Regions from separate parts of the Homo sapiens genome. Here region 1 is linked to region 2. The links come from fine-mapping of genetic effects on gene expression. A gene starts in region 2. The other region holds a variant in brackets. All regions are shown on one strand. Distances are from middle to middle.

Region 1 (2,911 bases), 80 kb after region 2:
TGTAATCCCAGCTACTCGGGAGGCTGAGGCAGGAGAATTGCTGGAACCCGGGAGGTGGAGGTTGTGGTGAGCTGAGATTGCGCCACTGCACTCCAGCCTACGTGACAAGAGTGAGACTCTGTCTCAAAAAAAAAAAAAGAGACTCAGGGTCTGGGCGCTGCTCCTGGTGGCTCTAGGTGGGACAGCTGCTCCTGCAGGGCGCCCTGGTTCCTTCTGGGTGTGTTTAGGACTCAGGGTCTGGGCGCTGCGTGTGCTTGTTGCAGCTAGGGTGTTGGCTGCTGCCAGCGCCCCCAGTGCACAGGGCTGGGGAGCATCGTGTGCACGTGTGCAGGGGTGACAGTGACTCCATCCCCACCTCTGCATTGAGAGCTCCTGCACACCTTGGCCCTCCTGCATCTGCAGTGCCTGCTCCGTGAGCCTCCGCGCTGCCGTTTTCCCCACACCCTGTGTGTGGTTGGTGCCTGTCTGCAGGGAGCTGTCGGGAGAGGGAAGGCCCTGGCTGAGCCTTGGGTTTCAGCTCCCCAAGTGCGAGCTGAGACCTGAGTCACCTGGGATTCCCCTCACGCACACCCTGCCTTCATCCTCCAGGCTTGCAAGGGCTCCTGTGTCCTCTGGACAGCGCCTGTCTTGGTTTTGTTCACATACAGCGCTTCTCTGTTGGTGCCTTGCTTTCGCCAGTGCTGCCCTTTGTTAGGCCGAATCCTTCGTCCTTTATGAGGCAAGGTCCTGACATCCTTTGCCCTGTGATTTGTGCTCGGGGTCTTGTTTAGGACCAGTCTCCACCCATGGTCACAGAGTGCCTCCTGCATTGCCTGATGCTGGCTCAAGAGGCAGCTGTGGGTGTCGCTTGTCCCTGCACGGTTACTTCCTCCTCTGGCCTCAGTCTCCTTTTATATACAGTCGGGATAACGGCACTGCCTATCTCAGAGGGTCGTGGCGACTCTTCAGGGGGCCACAGTGGGCCTGGCAGTGTCCTGGGTGGCCCTGGCACAGGGAGGCCTCCCTACAAGTCGGCTGCCGTTTGCTGTTCTTCATTTGCGTGTTGTGTGAGGTGGGGCCTCACTTAGTTTTTCTTCATGTCGTGGGTGCTTTCCCTCAACGGTGATCTAACCCTTTGATCTGTGGTGTCAGCTTTAAAAAAAAAAAAAAAGCAGCTTAACTGAAGTACAGTTTCCCTCCCACACAATTCCTCTGCTCTAGGTGTATGGTTCTGTGGGTTTGAGTAAACTTAGAGTGGTACAGCTGCACCACAGCGCAGCTTTCAGTTGTTTTCATCGCCCCCCAGAATTCCCTCACTCTTTTCATCATCAGTCCCGGCC[C/T]CTAACACTCATCCACTTCTGTCTCGGTAAGTTTCTTCTGTGGGCCTTTCGTGTTGCTGGAATCATACAGTACATGGTTGTTTGGCATCTTTGATTTTGCATCATGTTTGGAGGTCTGTCCTGCAGCACCTCAGCGCTGCACCCGTTTTTATTACAGAGTCAAGCCGCTGCAGAGGCTCTCCACACTTTCTTTGTCCGTTCGGGTGGTTGCCAGTTGGGGGCTGTCGTGAATAATACTGCCTCGAATGTCCGCGCTCCAGCCTTTGTGTGGCCGATGCTTTTGCTTCTCTTGGGTAGACACCTAGGAGTGGAATTGCAGGGCCATAGGGTCACTGCAGGGCTACAGGGTCACTCTAGGTTAACAGCCTCCTGTTTTCTAAAACGGCTTCACTGTTTGACACTCCTGCCGGCAGCGAGCAAGGCTTTCGTCTTGCTTACTTCCTCGCTAGCTCTGGGTATCTGCCTTTCTGGCACACCCGTTCTGGTGGGCGTGGCGTGCCGTATCCCTGGGGTTTTGGTTTGCATTTCCCTGATGGCCTGGATGCGCAGAGCACCTGGGTGCTTATGGGCCATTCCTATCTTTTTTTGAAAAACAGCTTTGTTGAGATATGATTCACGTACCACATAATTCACCCATTTTAGTGTACAATTCAATAGTTTTTGGTATATACTGTGTTACTTTTTAATTGTGGTAAAATATATATAACATAAATTTTGACCATTTTTAAGCGTCAAAATGGCACTTAGTTCAATAGCTAACTACATTCACAACACCGTGGAAACATTCCAAAATGTTTTCCTCACTCCTGACAGAAACACTGAGTATTCAGCAATGACTCTCCACTCCCCGCTTCCCAAACCCTAGTTAGACACCTAACTAGTTAGTGAAGGCGCCTCCTCTAGCTATGTCCTCTAAGTGGAATCGTACATTCTGTCCTTTGGTGTCTGGCGTCTTTCACGCAGCGTAATGTTTCCAGGGTCTAGCTGTGTCCCGTCAGTGGAATCATCCAGCATCTGTCCTTTGGTGTCTGGCATCTTTCACCCGGCATAATGTTTCCAGGGTTCACACGTGTAGCAGCACCTCATTCCTTTCTTATGGTAGAGTAACATTCCGTTGTGTGTGCACTGCGTTTTGTTAGTTCCTTCGTGTGCTGGTGGTTATGTGGCTACTGTGACTGGTGCTGTAGTGATTCCTGACAGCCAGGTATCTGTTTGAGCCCCGCTTTCACTTCCTTTGGGTGTATATTGAGGAGTGGAATTGCTGGAGTCTGAGTAATTCTGTGTTTAGCTTTCTGAGGAATCGGCAAGTGTTTTCTGTTGTGGCTGAACCACTTTACGTTCCCAGCAACGGCGCACGGGTTCCCGTTTCTCCACACCCTCCCCACCACTTGTTGTGGTTGAATTTCTTTATTCTAACTTTTTTTGTGTGTGGATTCTTTAGGGTTTTCTTACATATAAGATCATGTCATCAGCAAACAGATAATTTTACTTCTTCCTTTTCAATTGGGATGCCTTTTATTTATTTATTTATTTATTTATTTATTTATTTATTTATTTTTGAGACATAGTCTCACTCTGTCGCCCAGGCTGGA
Region 2 (2,911 bases):
GATACTTCATGGAAGTGGAATCACACAAGATTTGTCTTTTAGTGACTGGCTTATTTTACAAAGCACAGTGTTTTCAAGGTTTATCCATGGTGTATCCTGTGTTAGAATTTCCTTCTTTTTTTCCTTTTATTTTTTTTTTGAGGCAAAGTCTAGCTCTGTCGCCCAGGCTGGAGTGCAGTGGCTTGATCTTGGCTCATTGCAACCTCCGCCTCCTGGGTTCAAGCGATTCTTCTGCCTCAGCCTCCTGAGTAGCTGGGACCACAGGTGTGCGCCACCACGCCTGGCTAATTTTTTATATTTTTAGCAGAGACGGGGTTTCACCATGTTGACCACGCTTGTCTCAAAACTCCTGACCTCGTGATCCGCCCGCCTCAGCCTCCCAAAGTGCTAGGATTACAGGCGTGAGCCACTGCGCCCGGCCGAATTTCCTTCCATTTTAAGGCTGAAAAATATTTCATTGTTTGTATGGATCACATTTTGTTTATCCTTCCATCCACCCGTGGACACTTGGGTTGTTTCCGTCTTTTGGCTATTGGGAAAAATGCTGCAGTGAACATGGGGGCACAAATATGTTTGAGTCTCTGGTTTCCATTCTTTTGGGAATATAGCCAGAAGTAGGGTTGCTGGATCATACCGTAGTTCCATTTTTGTTTTCTCCTAGAAAGGCAGATTGCCACATGCAGCGCCTCATTTGGATGTGTCTGGAATCTTGACTACCCTACCTTCTCCTACAAATGGACCTTGAGAGCTTGTTTGGAGGTTCTACCAGGGAAGCCCAGCTCTTCTATTGGGTATGGTCGTTCTCTTCGACTGAGCTGCAGCTTCGGGAGGGACGCACATGAAGCAGTGAGGAAGGAAGGGGACACCCGCCTAGCCAGCCAGATCAGCCGAATCAACCCTGGCGATCAATGGGATGACAGGTGTCGCAGCCAGATCGCCCTCATATCCGGTAGTTCTACTTTTAACCTTTTGTGGAATCTCCATAGTTTTCTGCGGTGCTGCGCCATTTACATTCCCACCAACAGCGCACAGAGGTTTACACTTGTACATGTTTCCAATGACGAACTAAAAACTTTCATGTTTTCAGAGGTTCAACATGTCTATCCAGGGAACCTTGCTCTCCGATGTCTTCTCCTCTGGCCACAGTAAGAGGTTTCACAGACCCTCCTGGGTCAAGAGTAATTGTTAACTGGCCCTTCTCCCATGGGTCCCCGCGTAGACCCCCCCCCCCCCAACACTCAACTGGGGCGAAATGAAACGCAGGGACTGTGGGAAGGAACTGCGGTATGGGCTGGGTGGGCCCCAGGTCTCGCCCCTCGCCAAGTCTCCCAAGGGGACGCGATCCCGGACTGCACAAGCTGGGCCCGCGCGGCCTCCCAGAGCCCAAGCAGTCCCTTCCCAGCCGTTACCAGGCCACTTCCCGGCGCTCACTAGTGACGTCCCCGCCTCGTTCTGCGCGTGCGCGGCTCTGCCTCTCCGCTGCCGTTGTCAGCGCGACGGCGGGTCCTCGGCGGTCGGCAGACATCCGGGCCTGCTCCTGGCAGCTCCGCCCTGGCCCGCTCCGCCCCGCCCGCGGGAAAAAGGTCGCGTAGCGATGACGTCGTGGGGGCCTGGCCGGCCGTCGCGGACTCGGGAGATGGAGGAAAAGGAGATATTACGGCGGCAGATCCGCCTACTGCAGGGTAGGTCCGGCCGGGGCCGGGACGCGAGTCCCCTTCTTTCCCCCTCACCTCGCGGCGGGTCCCCTGCCCCCTTGTCGAAGGGGTCGCTCACCGCCCGCGTGTTCTGGGTGGCGGCTGGGGTGGGGGACGGTAGGGTCCGCCAGGACTTGTGGGCCGGCTCAGGGCCCGGGTCAGTCCCCGGCTCCAGCTTTGTCGAGGGAGTGGTGCCGGCCCTGCTGGGGCTGCAGAGGGTGGAGGCAGGGCCGTCGCTTAGTAACCCGCGGGGGGCGGCGGCCCTCCCCACCACCGCGGGCTGTCGCGTCCCCCGGCGCCCACTCTCTCCCCGCGCCCCACTGCGGGGCTGGGACTAGTTCATGGCTCATTTCGGCAGAGCAGGCTAAGGGCGCACGCGGGTTCCTTCCTTGACGCCCGGTTTTTTTTGAGACAGAGTCTTGCTCTGTCACCCAGGCTGGGGTGCGGTGACGCGATCACGGCTCACTGCAATCTCCTCATCCTGGGTTCGAGTGATTCTCCTGCCTCAGCCTCCGGAGTACGTGGGATTACAGGTAGGCGCCAGAACGCCTGGCTAATTTTTGTATTTTGAGTAGAGACGGGGTTTCACCATGTTGGCCAGGATGGTCTCTAACTCCCGACCTCAGGTGATTCACCCGCCTCGGCCTCCCAAAGTGCTGGGATTACAGGCATGAGCCACCGCTCCCAGCCTCGACGCCCGGTTTTGATGCCCCTTTTCTCCGAACAGTCACACTCCCCTTGCCATTCCAGGCGCAGACTGAACAGGCTTCAGCTTCCACACTTAAACATTAAAAAACCCAAATTGGTCTTTCTAAACTTAAAAAGAAAATCCATGTTCGGACGCAGTGGCCCACACCTGTAATCCCAGCACTTTGGGAGGCTATGGCAGGAGGATGGCTTGAGCCCGGGAGTTTGAGACCATCCTGGGCAACATGACGAGAGCCCGTCTCTACAGAAAAATTTTAAAAAGTGAGATGGGCGTGGTGGCTTGCGCCTGTAGTCCCAGCTACTCAGAGGTGGAAGGTTTGCTTGTGCCCTGGAGGTCCCGGCTGCAGTGAGCCGTGATTGGGCCACTGCACTCCAGCCTGGGCAACAGAGAAAAACCACATCTCAAATAAAAAGCCAAAACCAACCAAACAAAAAAAAGCTTTAAAAATTAAAAATCCTTTTTGCTTTTACTCTCACAAAGGGAAGACTTAAGGATTGGGAAAGTGTGT

What was found. PIP is the estimated chance that this variant, and not a neighbour inherited with it, causes the effect.
Region 1: its variant is fine-mapped to the expression of ZC3H3 in whole blood (INTERVAL, PIP 0.98).

The regions. Positions count from the first base shown.
Region 1 is chr8:143,460,215-143,463,125 of GRCh38, reverse strand. The region is part of intron 9 of ZC3H3 (zinc finger CCCH-type containing 3); the gene reads left to right. Among named protein-coding and RNA genes, the nearest start is that of MAFA, 31 kb to the right of the region's middle. RefSeq lists enhancers at 1-456, 514-683, 704-773, 457-1,170, 1,134-1,243. The variant C/T (reference allele first, on the strand shown) is at 1,320.
Region 2 is chr8:143,540,147-143,543,057 of GRCh38, reverse strand. It overlaps ZC3H3 (zinc finger CCCH-type containing 3), which reads left to right and starts at 1,611. Exons shown (of 12, transcript NM_015117.3): 1 at 1,611-1,682. The coding sequence starts at 1,637. It also overlaps the pseudogene RN7SKP175.